Linked DNA regions of Homo sapiens: regions 2 and 3 are each linked to region 1. The links come from fine-mapping of genetic effects on gene expression. A gene starts in region 1. Each other region holds a variant in brackets. All regions are shown on one strand. Distances are from middle to middle.

Evidence for each region.
Region 2: its variant is fine-mapped to the expression of CLN8-AS1 in aorta (GTEx, PIP 0.97).
Region 3: its variant is fine-mapped to the expression of CLN8-AS1 in sigmoid colon (GTEx, PIP above 0.99). The same link has a PIP of 0.9 or more in transverse colon.

What each region holds. Positions count from the first base shown.
Region 1 is chr8:1,761,211-1,769,386 of GRCh38, reverse strand. It overlaps CLN8-AS1 (CLN8 antisense RNA 1), which reads left to right and starts at 4,803. Exons shown (of 2, transcript NR_134303.1): 1 at 4,803-4,953; 2 at 6,459-7,424. CLN8 (CLN8 transmembrane ER and ERGIC protein) reads right to left here and starts at 5,598. Exons shown (of 3, transcript NM_018941.4): 1 at 5,502-5,598. RefSeq lists an enhancer at 1-244.
Region 2 is chr8:2,544,346-2,552,530 of GRCh38, reverse strand. All of the region lies in intron 5 of LINC03021 (long intergenic non-protein coding RNA 3021), which reads left to right. Among named protein-coding and RNA genes, the nearest start is that of LINC03021, 180 kb to the left of the region's middle. The variant C/T (reference allele first, on the strand shown) is at 3,376.
Region 3 is chr8:1,796,341-1,804,525 of GRCh38, reverse strand. MIR3674 (microRNA 3674) reads right to left here and starts at 3,401; the gene lies at 3,334-3,401. RefSeq lists enhancers at 1,455-2,115, 2,776-3,437, 3,271-4,470. The variant C/T (reference allele first, on the strand shown) is at 3,125.

The DNA.
Region 1 (8,176 bases):
AGAAGCATAGGAGGAGCCATTCACTGTGGCCATTCAGCAAAAACTTGCCAATCATTATTCAGGCAAAAAGGTCGCTGTGACCACACCCCAAGGACATGGAAAACACTAGCTCACACAAGCATGCAAAGAATGTGAGTCCTGGGACCTGATGCAAATGACAAGGGAGCACTGATCACTCCTAACCTCTTGCTTTGATAATGGTCTATAATCAAAGGCAAAATAGTACAAGAGTTTGTCTGTTTCTCCATTAACACTCCAGCTTTAACACAGACTAGCTCTGTTTGAACACAAATCTGATGTGGGGAAAGACAGCACTGGTACTCATGTTTCTCCCTAGAGAAACGGCTCCCGTGTCATGCTGCCCCTGGTGCGTGAGTTCAGGGCACACAGGCGTGCTCTCTGATAGATGCTATGGATGACAACTGAGGGGCTGCCATGCCCATGTGTGCCCTCGTGACCCACACTTCTGGTCATGCTATATATCAAGACTCCAGTGTACTTACACATCTCCAAACACATTTCTGTTAACCTGTTGACAAATCAGGTTGAACATGGTATTAAGGGGCTGGCAAGAGCACTCGGCTCTGGTATTCAGTGTGCAGCAAGGCATCGTTGAACCCCTATGCACTTCACAGGAGCAGATCAACTTCAAGTGCAGCCTAATGCCTGGAGGGGAGACCGCTTACCAGCATTAAAGAAAAGCAGGCTGGGTGGAAAGGACAGGTATCAGGCAAGGAATAGCATCCATTACAAGGGTTAACGTGAACAACACTGTTAAAGGTTAAAATATGGACCCCTCGTAAAACTTCTCCCTGTACTTTTCCACGAGTAGGTCATCAGCTCTGACTTATAGGTCCCATTTTGCCACAGTTGCATCAATGTCCGCTTGGCCAAGACCACTAACTTCTGTAGGACCTCTGCCTTGAGACGAGAGAAACCCCGACTCCAGAAGGCTCTGCCCAGATCAATGACTCAAATCCACCTCAGTGGAAGTGGTGAGCCCAAGTGATGCTTCAGGAGGTCTTTGGTTTGGTCAAGGTGAGAGGGACTCCAGGACATGAGAACCAAAAACCAAGAAGAGCGGCTGGCTTAGTGGGCTCTGATCTTGATTTCACTATTTAGGAGCTAAGAAACCAAGTTTCAGGCTGGGTGTGGTGGCTCACACCTGTAATCCCAGCACTTTGGGAAGCCAAGGTGGGTGAATCACTTGAGGTCAGGAGTTCAAGACCAACCTGGCCAACACGGCAAAACCCTGCCTCTACTAAAAATACAAAAATCAGCCAGGCGTGGTGGTGCGCACCTGTAATTTGAGCTACTCAGGAGGCTGAGGCAGGAGAATTTCTGGAACCCAGGAGGGTGGAGGTTGCAGTGAGCCGAGATCACACAACTGCACTTCAACCTGGGCAACAGAGCAAAACTCCATCTCAAAAAAAAAAAGAAAGAAAGAAAACAAGTTTCTTTCCTAACCACCCTGGACCCCAGAATCTGACTACAGGAAAAAGAAATACACAGAGCAGGCCGAGTGCAGTGGCGCACGCCTGTAATCCCAGCACTTTGGGATGCCAAGGCAGGTGCATCACAAGGTCAGAAGTTCGAGACCAGCCTGGCCAACATGGTCAAACCTCGACTCTATTAGAGATACAAAAAATTAGCTGGGCGTGGTGGTACATGCCTGTGATCCCAGCTACTTGGGAGGCTGAGGCAGGAGAATCGCTTGAACCCGGGAGGTGGAGGTGGCAGTGAGCTGAGATTGCGCCACTGCACTCCAGCCTGGGTGACAAGATGAGACCCCGTCTCAAAAAAAAAAAAAAAAAAAAAAAAGAAAGAAACATACAGAGCAGCGGGAAATGAAGCACCTACTACAAGCCAGATGTTCAACTAGTTTGTGTGATCTTCACCATAAGAGCAAATAGCTACCAGGTCTTCAAGCTTTCTAGATATCTTTTTGGAGAGATTACCATATCTACAGAAAAGTGGCAGATAGGTGAAAGACATGGAAACAGAAACAGGTAAGCCACAGCTGAGTGGGCAAACCCTCCTGGCAGTCAGAGAACAGGTGCCAATTAGGGATGCAGAAACAGCAGATTATAAAGACCAGAATGCTTACTTCCCCTTCCAGTCCTGTAGTGAATCCCCCATTCTGATTCTTTGCTCAAACCTCCTGACTTTCTGGGTAAGCTGGTGCTGTTCTAGTCTAACTCGTTACTGTGGGTCTCTGAGTTTAGTTAATGCCAACCAGCATCCTCCAGCCAGGAGTTCACAAAGGAGGTGAACTCCTCAGCTCTCTCAGCCATGAGGGTAGAAGGCCAGTCCCAGAGGCAGGATCCAGCCCAAGCGCCCAGTCTTCCTGGAGTCCTGCAGAGCTCTGCTGTCCTTTCGTGGCATCAGCGTTGTACTGAGAACAGCTGTGGTTCACCCCAAGTCACAAGGTGGGCACCCACAGAAGTGTGGCTAGGCCTTGTTCTGTCAGGCAGCACAGAAGGGGTATGGGAAGAGCTCAGCTTCTCCTTTTGCTTCTATTTCTGCTCCTTGACCCAACCACACCCTCTCACTCTTGATACGCAAAATGGGACACAGGGGTTCCCACTGTTCCCTTGCTGTGCACCATAAGGCTCAGGCCACATGAAGGAGTCCTTAAGTGTAATGCACAGCTGGAAGTCACTGTTCCTTCCATGGGTAAAACTGGAGGCCGAATCGGCCGGGCAGGGTGGCTCACACCTGTAATCCCAGCACTTTGGGAGCCCAAGGTGGGAGGATCACGAGGTCAGGAGATCGAGACCATCCTGGCTAACATGGTGAAACCTTGTCTCTACTAAAATACAAAAAAAAAATAGCCAGGCGTGATGGCGAGCGCCTGTAGTCCCAGCTACTCGGGAGGCTGAGGCAGGAGAATGGCGGGAACCTGGAAGGCGGAACGTGCAGTGAGCTGAGATAGCGCCACTGCACTCCAGCCTGGGTGACAGAGTGAGGCTCCGTCTCAAAAAAAAAAAAAAAAACAAAAAACTGGAGGCCGAACCTAATGGACTCATCTGGTTCTTTCATTCTGGAAGGCTTCCAAGCCCTTCCACACCAGCCCCTTTCCTCTCTGCAGTAGAGGAAGTGGAGCCGGAGAATAAACAACTCCTGGAAGGCCACCATCTCTTGACGCTGCAGATCTTCATTTTCTTTGGAGAAAATGTATACAAAAAGCTTGTCTTATAAGATTCTGTGGTTTCAGCTCTTCTATTGCACTGGGCCATGAAGTTTTTTAAAAATCTGAATGCAAACACATCAGTAAGAGTGTTAGCTCTGTTGCTGCAGTGTGACCAGGAACCAGGCTCAGTGGCCACTGGAACCCTTCGACTCTGTCATGCATCTATGCGCTCCTCCGGTTTATGGGGGCTAAACTGCTATGGATACCAGCATTTTTGTTTTTCATTGAGATAATTTATCCAAACTTGGAAGTGACGTCAAAAGGGAAAAAAAAGGTTGCATGCTTTTTTCCCTGCTAACGCAAGTTCAGTGTTTTACAACCCCAACAATCACTTGACTTTCTAGGAGAAATAACTAAACTATTTACCACTGATTGTGGGTCACGCATTTTACAATCTGCAAAGCTAATTCTCCTTTCCATCAAGAAGAAAAGACAATCCCAAAGGCTGTGGTTTCAATGCACACAGGATATTCACCAATCTTATTATCTAATCTGGCAATCTTCTCTCAGCATTCCTGTTACCCACTCACTAAGAAAATCCTAGTTTTGTGTATTCTCTTTTGAACTGACATTCCTATCCTGCTGTATACTGCATTAATGACTGAAATATAACCTGACAAGAGCTATTTACATGAGAATTATACTTCTAACATTTTGAAAATTATACATTGATGGGTTGTAAAAATGTTTTCCAAAATCAACAGAAATACATGTTTAATACACAAAATTCAGAAAATATAAACAAGCATAAAAATACAAAAATAAAAATTTACAATCCTCTTACACAGCTCCAAGCACCATCACTATTTTTTGGTGCCTGCTGGGTCAATTGTTTTTCTAGATATAAACTCTTCTTTTTACATAAAAGGGGATAACAGTATACAAGCTGCTCCCCGGCCTGCTTCTCTTCTCTCAGCAACAGCTAATCCTCCTCTGCAACACGGTTGCAGGGACTCCACCATTTACCTACCCGGTGTCCTACCAGGCTTTTGCCCAGTTCCTCGTTATCAGAAGACATTGTGTATTGAACATCTCTGAGGCCACCTAGAGAACCTGTGCTCTTTGTATGGAAACTGGATGCTCAGGAAGAACTTCCTTAACAACCACAGCCTCCATGACGGCCAATCTGAAAGTGAGGCACAGAAGTGTTCAAGCTCAGTGGGGAGCTGTGGCCATCTCATATTCCCTCAATCACTCACACTTCCTGCACCATTGCTCTTTCCTCTCACAACCTTCCTGAAAAGTTGTATGTAAATAAAAATCAAAATACGGGAGTGAGGTAAGCAGAAGCTGGATAGTTACAGATTTCACACAGAGGGTAAACTGAAACAGGAGTCAGAAGCAGCCGCCTCGCGCCAGTCTTTCAGAGAAGAGTCACTTACAGCAGAATCTACACAGGCTGGGGAGCCCCTGGCTCCCCTCCCTACTGTCCACACCCAACCCCAACCTAGAGCAGCTGGCTATAGGGCCCAGAGCCCAGGCGGGTCCCACCTCCTGCTGACCTGACCCAGCGCCCGCTCTCTCCCCCGCACACTTTGGTGACCTTACCCAGCGTCCCTCCCCGCTCCTACAGGTTCTGACTGACCCAGCGTCCCTCCGCCTCCCACACCATGTTGAGCTGCACCTTGTCCCCTTCCGCCCCAGCTAACTCGGTGACCAGTGGAGGCCACACCCACGTGACACCTGCTGTCCTTGACAGCAGCTCCGACGGCACCTCTGTGGCTCTGCAGGAGCCGCCTCCCCGCCTCGTGGGCACACAGGTGAGCTGACCGTACTTGCCCAGCCGGTCTGAGGGAAGCGAGGTCAGGGGCGACGGCGCCGCCTCCGCCTCCGCCTGTCCCCTCCCTCCGTCCGGCATCCGCGCCGCTCAAGGACTCCAAAGTCAGCGTCGCGGTGAGGAGCCCCCCACGCCCAACCCGCGCAGGCAGGACCCCGGGCTGCGGGGCTCGAAAGTCCCCCACAAGCTGCTGTCCGGGAACCGCACGGCCCGGGGTGCCGCACGCCCACCGGAAGGCAGGGCTGGGACCGCGGACGCCAGGAGCCACCCCGGCCCCTCACCCGGGCTCCCCCTCACGTGGGCTCCCGCGCGCCCATCTGGGTTCCCCCTCAGCTGAGTTCCCGGCCCCTCACCTGGGATCCCCGGTCCCCTCACCCGGGCTTCCCAGCCCCCTCGCCTGGGCTCCACGCGCGCTCACCTGGGCTGCCCCTCACCTGGGTTCCCGGCCCCTAACCCGGGCACCCCGCGCGCTCACCTGGGCTGCCCCTCACCTGGGTTCCCGGCCCTCACCCGGGCTCCCTGAGCGCTCACCTGGGCTGCCACTCAGCCGGGCTCCCTGCGCTTGGCGCCGCCCCGCCCCTGCAGGACTCCCGGCAGTCACTGACCTCATTGCCGCCCAGTCACGACTGGCCGGCCTCAAACACCGCCCGCGCACGCGCGTTCGCACGCGCGTGCGCACGCGTTCTGCCCCCCTGGGGGCGTCGCTACGAGAGGCCCCGCCTAGGCGCTACGACGGCGGCGGGCGCGGGAGGGGCGGGGCGGCGGGCGCGGGAGGGGCGCGGCGGGGGGCGGGGCGCGGCGCGGGGGGCGGGGCGCGGCGGGGGGCGGGGCGCGGCGGGGGGCGGGGCGCGGCGGGGGGCGGGGCGCGGCGGGGGGCGGGGCGCGGCGGGGGGCGGGGCGCGGCGGGGGGCGGGGCGCGGCGGGGGGCGGGGCGCGGCGGGGGGCGGGGCGCGGCGGGGGGCGGGGCGCGGCGGGGGGCGGGGCGCGGCGGGGGGCGGGGCGCGGCGGGGGGCGGGGCGCGGCGCGGCGGGCGCTGTGGGGCGGCGGGGTGGACGCGCTGAACCACGGCCGGCGGGAGGGGCGGGGCCGGGCTGAACCATGGCGGGCGGCGGCATGGGGGCGGTGGGGCTCCGCGGGCAGCCTGGTTGCGCTGCACCCGGACGGGGCCGAGGGGACCTGAAAGCTGCGGCAGAGCCTGACCGCGCCGTTCTCCAGAAGAGCCCCGGCCGCGGCTGAGTCGCGCTCCGGGTGTGGACGGAGCCGGAGCCTCCCCGGGGCTCGGTGAGGACACAGGGCCCAAGCCCCGGACCTTCAAGTCTTGACCGAGCGCATCCCCGGCCCTTCTGCGCCCACACCTGAGTTTTTGTCTGTAGGAGTTTCCGCAGTTTGCTAAGGTTGTTATTCGAGTTACTTATGTTTCTTCTCTCTAAGGTTGTTATTCGAGTTACTTATGTTTCTTCTGTCTAATGTGTTTTGTTCCCTCTTTAGAATCGACATCTAGAGGAGTACTCACCACTTAATTGATGATCAATACACGTTCCTTGAAAGAACCGATAGCATGCGATCGATACAGAGCATCTGCACTGGGATTGTCCGCCCCGCCTGTCAGGGAGGCCTCGGGGGCTAATGGAGCTGAGGGTATAGTCGGCCTTGGACCCTCGCTTTTTTCCTTTCCTGTACTATGAAGATAACTGCCTTATCTCCCCCTCAGGACTGTTTTGGGGATTAAATAGGACGTTTAAATTACCAACGCTCTTTGAAATAAACATTTCAAAATTATTATAACCCTTTAGTACATGTGGGAAAACGTTGACATTCATGTTCAAGTTTATTTTTCTGCTGGCTCATTTAGGTTTGTTGAAGCCTTGAGTCCCTAGGATTGTCTAAGAACATGGGTAAATGTGTGTGGAGGCCTCCCTGGAGGCCAGAGAACTGCCAGCAGCCTTCATGATGTTAGGGGAACAGGAACCTAGGAGAGCCAGGGTGACATCGTTTTAAAATCAACAACCCATCTTGGCGGGCGCGGTGGCTCAAGCCTGTAATCCCAGCAGTTTGGGAGAAAAAAATTAGCCGGGTGTGGTGGTGGGCACCTGTAATCTCAGCTACTCAGGAGGCTGAAGCAGAATTGCTTGAACCCAGGAGGCAGAGGTTGCAGTGAGCTGAGATCACGCCATGGCACTCTAGCCTGGGCAACAAGAATGAAACTCTGTCTCAAAAAAATAAAAATAAAATAAAATAAACTCCATCTTAAAACCAGTGAAACCACCATTGCAAAATTATAACTGAGACAGTGAGAGATCTGACCTAACCAACTCCATCCTACTTTTAACCTCCAAACTGTCCTTGTTCATTCCTGGGTGTAGGCCAAACTAACTTTGGAAGAAACTTAGTTTATGGTTTCCCGAAACAAATCCTTTTCTTGTCTGGAGACTAGACTGCCTTTGTAGGACTAACAAATTAGCCACAAGATTAGAAATTATGGTTTAGAATTCATGCAGCTGGAGATTACAAGATTCTGACCCTCCCTAAATTGCTCCTGGGGATAACATCACTATTGAAAAACCTAACAACAGTGCTTGAGATATTTTGCAGACCTTGCACTTGCTGAATTAGCTGGGACCATCCAGATGGATAAACTGGCTCATCTGATCTTGTGGCCCGCACTCAGCAACCGGCTCAGGCCAAGAGGACAGCTTTGATCCATACGATTTCATCTCTGATCTGACCCCTCAGTGCTCCCAGCTTACTGGCCCCCTACCTACCAAATTATCCTTAAAAACTCTGAACTCCAGGGCTGGGCACGGTGGCTCACACCTGTAATCCCAGGACTCTGGGAGGCCGAGGCAGGCGGATCACTTGAGGTCAGAAGTTCAAGACCAGCCTGGCCAACATGGCAAAACCCCGTCTCTACTAAAAATACAAAAATTAGCCAGGCGTGGTGGTGCACGCCTGTAATGCCAACTACTTGGGAGCCTGAGGCAGGAGAATTGCTTGAACCCTGAAGGCGGAGGTTGCAGTGTGCTGAAATCGCACCACTGCACTCCAGCCTGGGCAACAGAGCAAGACTCCATCTCAAAAACAACAGCAAAAACTCTGAACTCCGAATTCTTGGGGAAATTGATTTGAGTAATAATAAAACTCTGGTCTCCCGCACAGCCAGCTCTGTGTGGATTATTCTTTCTCTATGCAGTTCACCTGTTTGGATA
Region 2 (8,185 bases), 780 kb before region 1:
ATTACTGCTCTACAATAAAGTAAACACACCACCAATACACAATGACAAAGGTCATACCAAAATCTTATGCTGAATAATACAAGTTAGGCATGAAGTAAAACATGCTCAATGATACTATCTATATAGAAATCCTAGAAAAGACAAAAAGCTCAAATACAGTACCAGAAAGCTGATCAGTATTTGCGCAGGAGCTGGGAGAAGGGGCATGAGAACATTTTGAAATTATGGAAATGTTTTATTTCTTGATTGACATGTGGTTATATGGATATGAATATTCATTAGAATGTCCCCTCACTCTACACTTAGTATAGGTACATTTAATTATAAAATATAATTCTATGAAGCTAATCAAATGGCTGTTAAAGAAAGTTTTGGTACTGAAATAAACCTATTAACAAATTGGAAGTTCCTTTTTCTTCCTTTCTTTGTTTTAATGCAACTCCTTAACTATGCCAAAAAATGGAAACCCTCCTGAATATGGTAAAATGTTTAATGGTCGTTTGAAAGCATTCAAGGTAACCACAGCCGACACCCTATTTTGGTTGAAAGTTGCCCTTATGAGGCTCATGCTATTTCTCTCACTATGAAGAATTTCTGTTTACAGAATCATTCCAAGCTTCCTGTGCCTCATCCTGCAGGCCACCTACTCATTAAGGCTGAGCCTGGGTGCATCCATCCAGGCTCAAGATCACTCCGGATGGCCCCCCTACCCACCATCACTACTGCTTGTTCAACACAGAGAAAATATTTTGGAATCTCAGCTGCATATTAGTGTTTGTCTCATTACCACAGCCATGCCCGCTCTGTTTGCATTTGGTGATATGGTTGTGGCTCATTTAATATATTGACTTCTCCTTTACCTCTGCTAGCCCTGGAAGAAGTCACTGATTCTCATTGATTTAACTAACTAATCTCATGAATAAACTTCTGTCGACAGCCCCAGTAGCCACATTAAGTCTTCATGCCCTTCCCGAGCACTGGTGTTGCCTGCCAGGGTGCCCCTTCCTGTCCGTTTCTGCACACGCCCAGACTCATTCAGCCAGAGCCACTCCTCTTCTCTCCACCTCCCTCCCCAAGTGGTGTGGTTGTTCCATGAATGCTGCTGACTTGCGCATGGAATACGTGACAGCTCTCTCTCCTCTTCATGCCTTTCCATTTCCCTCCCAATCCTGACTTTTCCTTTGATCAACTCAAGTGTGGAAACACTTTCTACTCTACATTTTCCTTTCAATAACTGTTTTTAAACCTTGAAAATTTCCTTTTATTCTTCTGTTTTCCACGTGCCAAGAAATAACACAAAGAATGCAAACAAACAATGGGAAAACAGAAACCATTCAGTTGTCAGGAACACACATCCTATTTTATGGAATGAAATGTTGACCCCAATTCCAGAAAAAAAAAAAAGAAAGAAAGAAATCCAGTAATCCAGTAGATATTCTTAGTTGGATGGTACTGAGGGCTTATATGTGTGTATTTATAGAGAATCTTCTTGAAATAGCTATATGATGTGATTAAATTTAACGAAGCCTCGTGTAAATAAAAAATGTTAATTTTCATTATAGTAGAACCAAATAAATAGAATTTTATTAAATTCCTCATAGATTATAATGGGGCACAAAGGGGTTGTGCCCGAAACTTACTGTGCTCCTTGAAAAGTTTGGAGAGACAGTGTTAAAATGAATGGCCCTAAAATAGTTAAGAAATCTCAGTCTTGGTGTTTTTATTTATTTATTATTTTATTATTTTTTATTTCTTTCTTTATTATTTTTTTCTTTGAAACAGTGTCTTGCTCTTTCTCCCATGCTGGAGTGCAGTGGCGCATGATCTTGGCTCACTGCAAGTTCTACCTCCTGGGTTCAAGCGGTTCCCTGCCTCAGCCTCCCAAGTAGTTGGGATTACAGGCGCCCACCACCATGCCCAGCTAATTTTTGTATTTTCAGTAGAGACGGGGTTTCACCATATTTTCCAGGCTTGTCTTGAACTCTAGACCTCGTGATCCACCCACCTCAGCCTCCCAAAATGCTGGGATCACAGGCATGAGCCACCGTGCCCGCCCAATTTCAGCCTTATTTCTGACTTCTGGCCCTGGCACTGTGTTTCATATTGAGAAATCTTGATACTGGTTTCTGACAGAGGGTAGGATATACGTCCCATAAGGGTGTTTAAGACAGAGGGGTGCAAATGGCTCTTCTGTGGAGTCTGTTTAGTTTCTTTAGCAAACACATGTAGCCTAAATAGCCCACCTCATCCTTCCATCTGTCAGGCTCTGCTGTTAACTGTGGAGCGGCAAAAATCAGCTTAATGTGCTTCTCAAGACAAACCTAAGAGGCAAGCACCATCATTGCTCCTGTTTTACAGAGGAAGCAACTGAGGCACGACCAGGCTGAGCAGCTTGGCGAAGAGTCCGCAGCTGGTGAGTGGCTGCACAAAGGCCCAGATTCTCCATGTGAAGTGAACCTCTCAGTGTCTGTCCCCCAGAAGCCCCCGTGGCAGACAGCTTCGAATGAACCAGTCCCTTCCCAAACCGCCACCTTGAAACACAGGATGAGGTCTGAGATGTCTGTCTTTCTGATTGCAAGGCAGAAAGTAGTTCAGTGGTATACTTTTTGAAGCTTCCCTTGCACTCTGCCTTGGGACTCACTGACCTGTCCATGGTGCATTCCCTGGCTGTCCTTTTAGCTGGAGGCGCCTCCGTTGAGCCATGGAGACAGGATGCCCTCGCACCCACGTGGGCCGGGCTGGCAACCCAGCCTGCACCAGCACCTGCTCTGCCTGCGATGTCTATTTTCAAATAGCACAGGAACCACTTGGACTAGCGGTGTTATTTTTTGAATTTGTTTTAAAATGATACCAATAGTTAAGCTTAAAGTTGTTATTATTTTTTGCAGATTATTATTTCCCAGAAATAAAAAAGATGCAGCATGATTTTCACACATTTTGATGTTCCTTTCTTGCAATGCTTCCCTGGGTCTGCCATTACCTTTGAAAAGACATATTTGTCATGATGTGTTCTTATTACAGAAGTTACAGTCATTTTTGTTTATGAGACCAGGAAAAATCTTCTCTCTGGAAACTCCACGTTTCAGCCTGTGTTTTGATGCTTGAAGAAGGCACATCTTAATCACTGGGGGATGACACTAGTTAAAACGATATGAATTTAGTGGTCATATTTTCCATCTGTGTAGGGGAAAAAGTGTAGAATCTAATTTGCCTATTTTAATGCAAAAGCTCAGTGAAAAATGGGAGTAATTTACAGCTTCTGTCGAATTATTCATGTTATTTTCTGCAGAGTCAAAACTCCTTTCATTCTCTTCAAAGTCATACTTTTTAAAGTTTTGAGGCATTCCACCGTGATAGTAAATTATACTTTTGATA[C/T]ATGCATATAAATTATATAATCTGCATGTGGCAATTTTAATAACGAGAATCTACTCAGGAAACCCTCTCTGATTCCGCTTGAGAATGTATTTTTCTTTAGATTTTTTTCTTAAGTGCATATAATATACACATTCCTAATCTACAACAAATGAATGCGTGCAAGACCAAGAACTGGCATATCTACGGAAGAGCTCTCTGTTAAATTTTTTAATGAAAATTGCTGCTTGAGCTCCAGATGTCCCAAGTTCAGTCTTTGGAAGTTAAGAAAGCTGCTGGGACTTGTGATCAAGTGCAAGGACATGGCTTCCCTTGAGCTGCAGTCTGGTGTATGACATTGTTGGTGTGGTTGCTACCATGGATGCTGCTAACGTGCCCAAGGAAAGCATTTTACTGAATTCTTTGGTTAATAATGAATCTCAAATTCTCACATTACAATATAAAGAAGTAGGAATGGAGGTCAGGCACGGTGGCTCATGCCTGTAATGCTAGCACTTTGGGAGGCCGAGGCGGGTGGATTGCCTGAGCTCAGGAGTTCAAAACCAGCCTCGGCTACATGGTGAAACCCAGTCTCTACTAAAAAATACAAAAAAATTGGCCGGACATGATGGCGGGCGCCTGTAGTCCCAGCTACTCAGGAGGCTGAGGCAGGAGAATTGCTTGAACCAGCTAGGAGAAGGTTGCAGTGAGCCGAGATCGCACCACTGCACTCCAGCCTGGGCGATAGAGGGAGACTTTGCCTCCAAAAAAATAAAAATAAATAAATAAATAAAAAAAGGTATTTCCTCTATCCCTTGACCAGTTTCTAGACATTCAATTTTGAGTTCTAAATGAACTCAAAGAATGCAATTAAAATATACTATAATGCAGTCTAGAGAATTAAAATGTCATAATTATTCACTGTCTTCCATGAAGGTCAAGTTTAACATATCTTATTTTTTTTCTTTTTGTTTATAGAGAGGGGGTTTCGCCATGTTGCCCGGGCTGGTCTTGAAATCCTGAACTCAAGTGATACGCCTGCCTCAGCCTCCCAAAGTGCTGGAATTACAGGCATGAGCCACCACACCAGTCCTAGCTTAAAATATCTTTGAAAAGAATATTTTCAAGTATGTTAGCAAGTGTTTCTGAATGGAATATTTGTGCAAAGTATATCAGCAAAACGAAGTCACAGTCTTAGCCACATTGGACCTCATTGTCAATGAAGAGAAAGTAAAAGTCATCAGTGTCCTCTACCAATTGCAAAAATAACTTAAAATATTTTCAATGTCAAATTAATTGTAATTTATATTAAGCAATTAATTACAATTTTTTGTTGCAATATTTTAGGTCGTCAAACATTTATCTTTGGTTAAATTACATATGTGTGCCCCTATACTTGGTGTTAGGCAATATTCAGTAGATGAAATTAAACAAAACAGGTTCCTAAATAACTCTATTAAAATCACAGAGACTATCACATCAAACCAATCAATTCGCCAAAAGCATTCTTCCAAATAAGGGGGTCATCAAATCTACAGGGGCATACAAAATAGTTGCAAACCGTGATTCGATAAAGATGACAAAAAGATATTTTTCCATTCACAATCTGTAGTCCCTGCATATCAAAAGCAAATGGAAAATGTAATAAAGGTAGACTGTAACACACTTGGTTTATGAGAACTAAGAACTATTAGACATTGTAAATATCCCTTTAAATTTTGCTACATATAAAATAGGATTGTGGCTGGGCACAGTGGCTCACCCCTGTAATCCCAGCCTTTTGGGAGACTGAGGCAGGTGGATTACCTGATGTCAGGTGTTCCAGACCAGCCTGGCTAACATGGTGAAACCCCATCTCTACTAAAAATACCAAAAATTAGCCAGGTGTGGTGGCGGGTGACTGTAATCCCAGCTACTCAAGAGGCTGAGGCAGGAGAATCGCTTGAACCCGGAGAGGGGGGAGGTTGTAGTGAGCCCAGATCTCTCCATTGCACCCCAGCCTATGTAATAAGAGCAAAACTCTGTTTCAAAATAATAATAATAAATAAAATAGGATTATGAAAGATAACTATCTGTTATTGAATATTAATACTTTGATGCCAGTTGATTGACTTCTGACCATTTATTTATTTTTTTGAAAACCATTTTATTCTGTGCTAATAAGAGCCAGGGAATGATCTAGCCATACAAATGATAAGTAAACCAAAAAGCTTCTTAAGTAGTTTGTTATTTGTGTGCATTCGAATTATCACTGAAAATATGAACCTGCATTGATCTTCCTACCAAAAAGGCCATGCAGTGCACTGAGTCACCTCATTGCCAGCATTACCCAAGCCTCCTCCCGGGGAATTTGGATCTCTTCCCTCACATGGAAGACTCTGATTGCAGCATCTCCTCCCGGCATTATTGGTCAGACCCCCACGACAATCTCGCCGTGAATACAGAGGCATCTCGGAGCCACAGCTCAGCTCGCTTTTCCTCTTACCCTATACCCCGGGTCCTCTCTTATATGACGAAAATTTTTCAGCATTTCTATTCTGAATACATATAACCTTTGGAATTGTCTATTCTCCAAAAACGAAGAGTTTTATAACCAAAAGGTGCTGGATATTATCAAAGTCATTTTTTAAAGGGCCACATAGTCAATAATTTAGGTTTTGTTGTCTGCGTATTAACTGTCACATTAAATAAATAGATAGGACTTAACAATGTAAAAAGAATTCTTAGCCTGAGGGCTGTACAGCAACAGCCTACAGATGGGACCTGCCTTCTAGGACATACTACGCCCACCCCTATCTAAATCTATGTTTAAAAATGTACGTGAGGTTCACAAAGGGAGGTGATATGGGTGATATTATGGAAATGGATTTCTAGATCGTGAATCTTCATATATATTTTTTCCTAAAATTATTCTGCCTGAGTCCCACCACAAACTAACCTTTAACCACATTTACCACATTTCTGGAACATTTCATATCACTATTTTGGCTGAGACAGTACTATGTATTCCGCACATTTTTTTTTCTCTATCACCTCCCTTTGGCTGCTAAATCTATCTAATAATTTTCTTATTTTCTAAGTCAGACTCTGCATTTTTCCAGTTCTATTACTGTGTTGAGATTTCCTATTCATTCATTGAAAGCACAGTTTCTTTTACTTCATTAAATACAAATTAGAATAACCTCTTTAAAATCCTTGTCTGCCTTATTTCAACATCTGAATTTAGGTCCATTTTATTTTCTACGGAAAATATATTCTATTGTGTTAGTTCTTTACATGCCAGATAATTTTGGATTGTATCTTAGACATTGTGGTGGTTAAATTGGGAGGATTTACTTTTGTTCTTTTCATCTTATGCCTGTTGATTATTTGGTTTTATGAATGATAATCTTAACTGAACTTGAACTGAAAAACCTTAGGTGGCGGCTCTAGTCTCAATTTAGATATTCCAGCTTTAATTGAACTGCCTTGAGTTTTTTCACCCATGCATTTTTCCATGATCAGTCACTGACAACTTTTGGAGAGTTTGGGAACTCTGTCTGTATCTTTTATGTACAGGATTTCACCACTCTCTCTAGAACTCATGCATTCCCCAATATCCATTTTCAGGTTTTTCTAGGCAGAAAGGCCTCAGTAAGTTTTCTGTTAGTTGTCTTGCCAACTCATACATGTCAACTGCCCTTAGCACAGGGTTAAATGCCCTTAAAGAGGACCTTGGTACCCTCCTCTTCTAAGTGTGCACTCCCCATCGAAGTTTATAATTTTATCATTCTCCTATGCCCTTAGGTAGCTACCTATAATTCCTTAAGATTTTATCACTGTTTTGTGTAAATAAGTCAGTCTTGGAAAATCTTTCTCCATCTTCTCTGATATCCTCATTTTAAAAACAAAGTAATTAAAGCCATAAAAATTCAAAGATACAGGAAATATCTCGCAGTTATCTATCAGCAGAACCAAAACCAGACCCACGTTTTCTATCACAGTCCCCCATCCACCTTTGGTTCCAGTGATAACTACATGTAACAATAGCGCCTTCTTTCCCCGGTTTAAGAATGGCTCTTGCCACTAACTTTGCACAGGGCATGTCCATGCCTTATTGCTACAGCAGTCCTTCCCGTCCAGAGTTTTGCTTTGCATGGTTTCCTTCTGCGTGGTCTGCCAAATATCTATAAATATTAAATGGAAAATTCCTGAAATAAACAATTCACATGCTTTACACTGTGTGCTGTTCTGAGCAGCCCGATGAAATCTCACACCATCCCATCCTGTCCAACCCAGGACATAAATCATCCCTATGCCCAGCAGATCCACACCACGTACCACACACGGCAGCAGATCCACGCCACGTACCACACACGGCAGCAGATCCACGCCACGTACCACACACGCCTGTGAGTCACCGAATGTCTGTCTCGACAATCACACCTCCTGTCCTGGCACTGCAGTATTCCTGTTCAAGTCACCCTTATTTTACTTGATAATGGCCCCATAGCACTAGAGTAATGATGCTGGCAATTCAGATATGCCAAATAGAAGCCATAAGTGCTTCTTTTAAATGAAAAAGTGAAATTTCTTGATTTAATAAGAAAAAAATATATGCTGAGGTTGCTAAAATCTATGGTAAGTGAATTTTCTATCCATGAAATTGTGAAGGAATCGGAAATAAATCCAGGCTGATTTTGCTGTCACACATCAGACTGCAAAAGTCATGGCCGCAGTGAGTGATAAGTTCTTAGTGAAACTCATGGGTGGAAGATAAGAACAGGAAATGTATTCCACCTGACAGTAATGTTTGTGTCAGAAAGCATCGAGCCCATATGAAAATTTCAGCAAG
Region 3 (8,185 bases), 35 kb before region 1:
CCAAACAAGGCAGTGTTGATGAAGATGGACACCCTTGCTATTTTCTCATTAGTCCAGAATAAGTAGGATGTAGTTACAGAAAAATCACACCAGGCGCCATGGCTCACACCTGTCATCCCAGCACTTTGGGAGGCCAAGGCAGGCAGACCATGAGGTCAAGAGATCGAGACCAGCCTGACCAACATGGTGAAACCCCGTCTCTACTAAAAATACAAAAATTAGCTGGGCCTGGTGGCGTGTGCCTGTAGTCCCAGCTTCTTGGGAGGCTAAGGCAGGAGAATCACTTGAACCCGGGAGGCAGAGGTTGCAGTGAGCCAAGATCATGCCACTGCACTCCAGCCTGGTGACAGAGCGAGACTCTGTCTAAAAAAGATAAATAAATAAAATAAAAAAGTCATGCCAGAAAGCAGGAACACTTTGCAAAGGAAGTTATTGACAAACAGTAAAAATTCTAAAAATCACTATAGTAAATGAGTGAAGGTTAGCTGCTGCAAAGGGGAAAATGTACATAGACCATAAATTAAGCTACACATCGTAGAAAAATAAATAATCACTCCAAAAGATCCCACCTCCACAGGGAGGCTTGAAAAGATGCTATTACACCACAGCCCACAGATGAAAGTGTGAACTCAAAAGTATCTGAGACAGGTCTCCATCCATTTAGAAAGTTTATTTTGCCGTGTGGGTTCACTTTCACACTGCTATAAAGAAATAGCCGAGACTGGGTAGTTTACAAAGGAAAATGGTTGAACTGACTCACAGTTCCATATGGCAGGGGAGGCCTCAGGAAACTTAAAATCATGGCGGAAGGCAAGAGGGAAGCAGGCACCTTCTTCACAAGGCAGCAGGACAGCGAGTGTGAGAGAGCCTGGGGCAACTGCCCTTTATAAAACCATCAGATCGCTGGGCGAAGTGGCTCACGCCTGTAACCCCTGCACTTTGGGAGGCCGAGGAGGGTGGATCACCTGAGGTCAGGTGTTCGAGACCAGCCTGGCCAACATGGTGAAAACCCATCTCTACTAAAAATACAAAAATTAACCAGGTGTGGTGGCAGGCACCTGTAATCCCAGCTACTCGGGAGGCTGAGGCAGGAGAATCGCTTGAACCCGGGAGGTGGAGGTTGCAGTGAGCCAAGATCACGCCACTGCACTCCAGCCTTGGCAACAAAACTCTGTCGCAAAAAAAAAAAAAAAAAAATCAGATCTCGTGAGAGTTATTCACTATCGCGAGAACAGCATGGGGAGAACCGCCCCCATGATCCAGTCACCTCCGGCCAGCTGTGTCCCTGGGGACTGCAATTCAAGATGAGATTTGGGTGGGGACACAAGGCTAACCATATTACTTGCCAAGGTTAAGGATGAGCCCGTGACACAGCCTCAGGAGGTCCTGACCACATGTGCCCAGGGTGGTCGGGGCACAGCTTGGTTTTATACATTTTAGGGAGACGTGAGACATCAATCAGTAGGTGTAAGATGCACATTGGTTTGGTCTGGAAAGATGGGACAACTCAAAGTGGGGGCTTCCAGGTCACAGGCAGATAAGAGACAAACAGTTGCATTCTTTTGAGTCTGGGATTAGCCCTTCTTTCACCAAATACACAATTTACATGTGAAAGGGGGGTAGAGGAACAGTCACTCTTGCCTTAGTCTGGCTTAGTGAATCTGCATTTTTTTCTTATTTTTTAGAGACAGGGCCTGGCTACATGGCCCAGGATGGTCTCAAACTCCTGGACTCAAGCAATCCTCCTGCCTCAGTTTCCTAAAGTGCTGGTCTTACAGGTGTGAACAACTATGCCCAGCCTGCATCTGCAGTTTTAAGTAAAATGGGAGGCGGGATTCCCTGATGCAGTTCCCAGCTTGATTCTTCCCTTTGGCTTAGTGACTTGGGGTCTCGAGATTTATCTTCCTTTCACAAGAGCCTGTGGTTCCACCGTAAGGACTGGAGTGGCCGATGCAGGGGGAGGAGTTTTGGGTGTGGCCACAGAGGCAGCTCCCAGCAAAGGCTGGCCACTGCATCCCCCTTCCTCACTCTGACTCCAGTCTTTCTGGCCATGAAACTTGACCTCTGTCATTTCAGGGGTTTCTTGTGGCCCCTCCACCCAGGCTAGCCCAGCTGAGCCCTCGAGGCTCCTCCTGCACCCTAGGCCTTGTTCCTATCACTTCCAGAGCCTGTCTGGTCAGTCCGAAGGTCTCTGTGTTAATGTTAATGCCATCGGCTGTTCCTGACCCCAAAGGGAGAGGATACAATGAGGCGTATCAGACCCTCCCCTTCCCGTCCGGCCTGACTTGTTTTTCAGGTTTGTTTGGAATCCTCTTGGCCAAGAGTAGGGGTCCATTCAGTTGGATGGGGGGCTTTTGGTTTTCGGAATTTTATTTTTGGTTTAAAACGGATGCTCACATGGGAGCCTGGGCCCAGAGCGGCCCAGGAAAGCACGTTCCAATGCTCCCTGCAGTGATCTAATGCGCTCAGAAGGTGGGAATGACTGTTCTAGTTCCCAGAGCCCCTTTTGCAGGGGACAGATGCTGGTGTAGAGTCCATGGTGCATTCAAGTCATGTTTCCTGCCCATTCCATCCGAGTGCAGTAGCCTCAGTATCTCATGCTACTAAAGTGATTGTCCAATCACTGTCACCGCCTGAAGGCTGGCTACAAAATTAAGAAATTAAAACTCCTGCCCACTGCACAGAGAAAACCAATTCACTGAAACCATGGTGTTGCAATAAAGAAAGTTTAACTGACACGAGGCCAGCCACGCCACGTGGGAGATGGAGTTATTCCTTTCATGCGCGTCCGTGTGAAGAGACCACCAAACAGGCTTTGTGTGAGCAAAATGGCTGTTTATTTCACCTGGGTGCAGGCGGGCTGAGTCCGAAAAGAGAGTCAGCGAAGGGAGATAAGGGTGGGACCGTTTTATAGGATTTGCGTAGGTAAAGGAAAATTACAGACAAAGGGGGTTTGTTCTCTGGCGGGCAGGAGTGGGGGTCGCAAGATGCTCAGTGGGGGAGCTTTTTGAGCCAGGATGAGCCAGGAAAAGGACTTTCACAAAGTAATGTCATCACTTAAGGCAAGGACCAGCCATTTACACTTCTTTTGTGGTGGAATGTCATCAGTTAAGGTGGGGCAGGG[C/T]ATATTCACTTCTTTTGTGATTCTTCAGTTACTTCAGGCCATCTGGGCATATACGTGCAAGTCACAGGGGATGCGATGGCTTGGCTTGGGCTCAGAGGCCTGACCATTACTTAAATCAATTTCCCTGAAAATTTGGAGGCTACTGTATTTCAAGGGTAGTTTAGCAGGCCAGGGAGTCCGCTTCTGAGTGGGGCCACAGGATCAGTCGGACATCAGAAATGCAAAAACTTGAAAGGACATCTCAAACGGCCAATCTTAGGTTCTACAATAGTGATGTTTATCTGCAGAAGCTGCAAATCTTGTGACCTCCAGAGTAATGGCTGGTCGTCGTTTACATCTATATTTTAGCAGAATCCAGGCTCCTCTCATCCTCCTAACCTACTGGCCTTTCATTAGCTTTACACAGGCAGTTCAGTTCGGGAGAAGGGCTATTATCGTTTAAACTATAAATATCTTCCAAAATTAGTTTGGCCCAGGCCTAGGAGTGATGAAAGACAGTTTGGAGGTCAAAGGCAGGATGGGGGTTGGTTAGATCAGGTATCTTTCAACGTCATAGTTTTCTCACTGCTGTAATTTCTGAAAGGTGGTTTCATCACTTCCAAGAGGGTAGAAGACATGTCCTACTCTGGCGGCAATTCCTGCGGGTGGCTGAAGGACTGAATCTGCACAGAGCGGCTGTCAGAGGCCAGTGCGTTCTCTGCTCCTTGTGTTCCTATCACCCAACTCTCCTGTAAGCCAGGCAATAAGAGACGGGAGAAAAACATCCTCATGCAAAGCAGCCGGACCCAAAATGAAGAAATGAAAAGATCAGTGGATCGTTAAGACCCGAAGTCAAATTTTTAACATGCCCCTGACTTTGTGGTTTTAAACTTGCCTGTTTGAGACATGTAAATACTCACTGATTTATAAAAACACCAGTCATCAGGCGTGCCAGTTTGATTCCAGAGAAAACAGTAGAGAGTGCCTTATCGGGAAGAACAAATGGCTGCCCTTATCTAGACGCTTTCACTTACTGCATGGTTCAGCACACGGCATTTTCATGATATGCAGAAACCATCTTCATAAAAAGTAATTTTCCACTTGCCCAATTAAATAACTGTCAAAGCGTATTTCCGAGGAAATTACACTGCATTGTTCTTAACTTTGCTTAGTTGTTAAAAAAAAGTTGACATTTTATTGTGAAATAAAACATATGCAGAAGAATTCACAAATCACACATTTACTAAATGATTATAAAGCAAATAGCTATGTAACCAGATCACAAGCAGAGCCCTGCCAGCACCCCAGAACCCCCACGGATCCCATCCTAACCACAGCCCCATTCCCTCATTGGGAAATGTGTTTGGTTTTATTTGCAAGCCAACCCATAACCTCACCTCATGTTCCAAGAAAGTCCCACAGTGATATGAGGCCAATCTGTTCAGCTATTTTTATAGGGAATTCTTTACCGCCTAAATCCAAAATACTTCCAAAATACTTCCCACTTCTGGGAGCCTGGAACTCACTCCCACGCTCTTGGCCTCATCCAGGGAGGAGCTTTCTCGCAAACCTGTCGCTCCAGGTCCTAAGAAACCAGATTTTATTAAAAGATTGGGTTTAGGACAATTAGGTAACTGATTAGTCTATCACAGTTGTCTGTGACAAGAACATAAATATTAGAGTTGAGACGTCAATTTTGTGAATAAAACCAAGCAGAAACCCTAACAAAGGCAAGAAGGGGTTTGTTTAGATCAGATGCAAGGGCTTCTGGTCCAACAGGCAGACAGAGCCCTCATGTCCATCCATTTCCTGCTGAAACCTGGCTAAAAATATTTAAGTGTTGAAAGTAGAGAAAGAAGATAGAAGGCATGGCCGGGTGTAGTGGCTCACACCTGTAATCCCAGCTCTTTGGGAGGCCGAGACAAAAGGATTGTTCAAGGCCAGGAATTCAAGGCCAGCCTGGGCAACATGGTGAGACCCTGTCTCCATTTAGAAGAAAAAGAAGAAGAAGAAGAAGAAGAAGAAGAAGAGGAAGAGGAAGAGGAAGAGGAAGAGGAAGAAGAAGAAGAAGAAGAACAAGAATTGGAGGAGGAGGAGGAGGAGGGGGAGGAGAAGGAGGGGGAGGAGGAGGAGGGGGACGGGGAGGGGGAGGGGGAGGGGGGAGGGGGAGGAGGAGGAGAAGAAGGAGGAGGAGGAGAAGAAGAAGGAGGAGGAGGAGGAGAAGAAGAAGGAGGAGCAGGAGGAGGAATACAATGGTCCAGTGCCAAGACAGTGAAAGGCAGAGGGCCATGGCAAAGTCTGAGGGCTGGAGGCAGATGGACAGATGATGGACGAATGGGCACCGGTGAGGCCAACCAGAGGAGGCTACCGGAGCTACAGGGAGAGCCTTTCAGGCATCTCTGAAAGGGGACATCAGGCGAGGCTGAAAGCAGGAGGCACAGGATCACCAGGTCCTGCTCCACACCCAGGAGGGCAGGTGGCAGCCCCAGCCCAGCTCGGAGGGCCCAGGAGGAATCGGCCAGAAGACACTGTCATGGAGATCCTGAGGCAGCAATGGGAAGCAGGAGGAGTGAAAGAACAGTGGCCTTTGCCTACTTGGATCCAAGAGTTGTGGCAGTCGAATGACAGATCCTTCCGCTCCGCACCCCAGGGGACAGCATGACAGATCCTTCCGCTCCGCACCCCAGGGGACAGAATGACAGATCCTTCCGCCTCACACCCCAGGGGACAGCATGACAGATCCTCTCGCCGCACACCCCAGGGGACAGCATGACAGATCCTCTCGCCGCACACCCCAGGGGACAGCATGACAGATCCTCTCGCCGCACACCCCAGGGGACAGCATGACAGATCCTCTCGCCCCGCACCCCAGGGGACAGCATGACAGATCCTTCCGCCCCGCACCCCAGGGGACAGCATGACAGATCCTTCCGCCCCGCACCCCAGGGGACAGCATGACAGATCCTCTCGCCGCACACCCCAGGGGACAGCATGACAGATCCTCTCGCCCCGCACCCCAGGGGACAGCATGACAGATCCTTCCGCCCCGCACCCCAGGGGACAGCATGACAGATCCTCTCGCCGCACACCCCAGGGGACAGCATGACAGATCCTCTCGCCGCACACCCCAGGGGACAGCATGACAGATCCTCTCGCCGCACACCCCAGGGGACAGCATCACAGATCCTTCCGCTCCGCACCCCAGGGGACAGCATGACAGATCCTTCCGCCCCGCACCCCAGGGACCCCAGAATTCCTTTCAGGGAAACACACCCATGAGAAAAATCTGCGTGATTCAAGAGTTCCTCAGTATGAGACCCACGCGCCTCCCTGGTTATCCCCGGTCCCACAGGCAAACCTCCTTATGCCACAGACACACACACACACACACACACGCACACCCGGGGTTCCACATCCTTTCTCAGTGCCTCATGCTGAGAAATAAATAGTCGAAGACCACCAGACACAAGGAAGCCTTCGACATGGAGAAAGAGGCAAAACCAAATTGTGTGGTCAGAGGAGACAGTGAATGGGGCAGAAGAAAACTTCAACAGAGAAAAGCGATTGTTGAAATGCTCCGGGGTGTCTGTCTCCCACCAGTGGAATTGCTGTGACACTCGGTGTGTGTCAGTGTGTGCAGAGGCATCTCCTGTCTCTAGTGGAGACTCTGGGATCAAATTAGTGACTGGTACACGAACACTCATCCAACCACTAGAGGAGGAGGAAAGGGCGCAGGGCTTTATTATGAACAGGCTAGGTCAACAGGACGGGCCTCGGGATGGGAAGTGGGTTTGAAGAGAAAGAGGAATCAAGAAAAATCCCAAAAGTTTTGACTGCAACACCTGGAAGGAGAGCAGCCCCCTGTACCGAGATGGAGGTAACAGGAAGAAGAGCACCTTGTGGGGGAAAGCAAAGCCCTGGTGTGGGTGGCCTGAGGCTGTAGAAAGTGTGTGATGCTCCAGATAAGGTGTCAGCTGACCCAGTATTCAGGTCTGGGCTGGAAGTGAGATTTTGGGAGCTTCTTGGGTATGGATGTGATTTACAGGTGACTTTGCCTGGGAAGATCCTACAGATGGAGAAGAAAGACAGGAGGAGGTTAGGATGATGGGAGGGGGACCAGGATCGGGCTCCAGGATCCCTCCCAAAAAAGCTCTTCTGGAGGAAGGGTTGGTGGAGCAAGTGCTGGCCGCCGGTGCCCTGGCAGGGGTGACTGTGGGGGGCAAAGGGCACTGTGGTGGGCCTTGGGCCTAAGAGACAACAGGAAAGAGGAGGTGGGGCTGGTGTGTGTAGGAAGTCCTTCTAGGTGGTTTCTCTAGAAAGAGAAGAGGTAGCTGCTGGAGGGGGTGAGATCCAGGGGTCTTTTCATGGCAGCAGCTCTCAGCATGGCATAGATGGACCAGTACCCCTGAGTGTAAAGGGGCGACGGTCCCGGGTGGAAGGGGCTTTGGACAGGCAAGGGAGGGGAGACAGTGCAGAGCCTCAATGCTGGTGGGCGGGATCAATGTGATGGTAAGCAGACTGGGACATTCTCTCAGGAGTTATCCATAAAACCTAGTGGACAGTTAAAAAGAGGGGAGAGAGAGAGAAAGAGAGAGACAGCAGTGGGAGTCCAGGCAGATGTGAGTTTGTGACCCAGGGAGGAAGCCTGGCAGAAGGGGCCCCTTTCCTCCAGATCTGGGGATCTGGGACCTAGGAGTGTCTTGGGATCTGTAATGACTGGGAAACATCCAGGGCAGTTTCCACGGCAGCCCCAGTGCGCCAACACCTGGTCCAGGAGGACAGAGAGATTTACTGAGTCCAGACTCGAAACAGAACTACACAAATAGGAAGGTGTGGAGGGGGACGTGGGTCCTGATTTCCAAACTGGGGCCTCCAGCCTTGGATGGAGGAAGTTAGGAAGGAAGGAAACAAGGAGAATTCAGGGACAGCTGGAGAAAAGGCCTGGAGTTCCTACCGGTCTATGGAAAAAGCAGCAATCTTGTGAGTGGGAGCATCATCCGGAGCTGGGTGGGTGGGAGGACTATCAGGGAGGCTCGGGGCTGGGCAGGAGATGGCCCTGCTCTCCTTCCCCTCCCCGTCTTC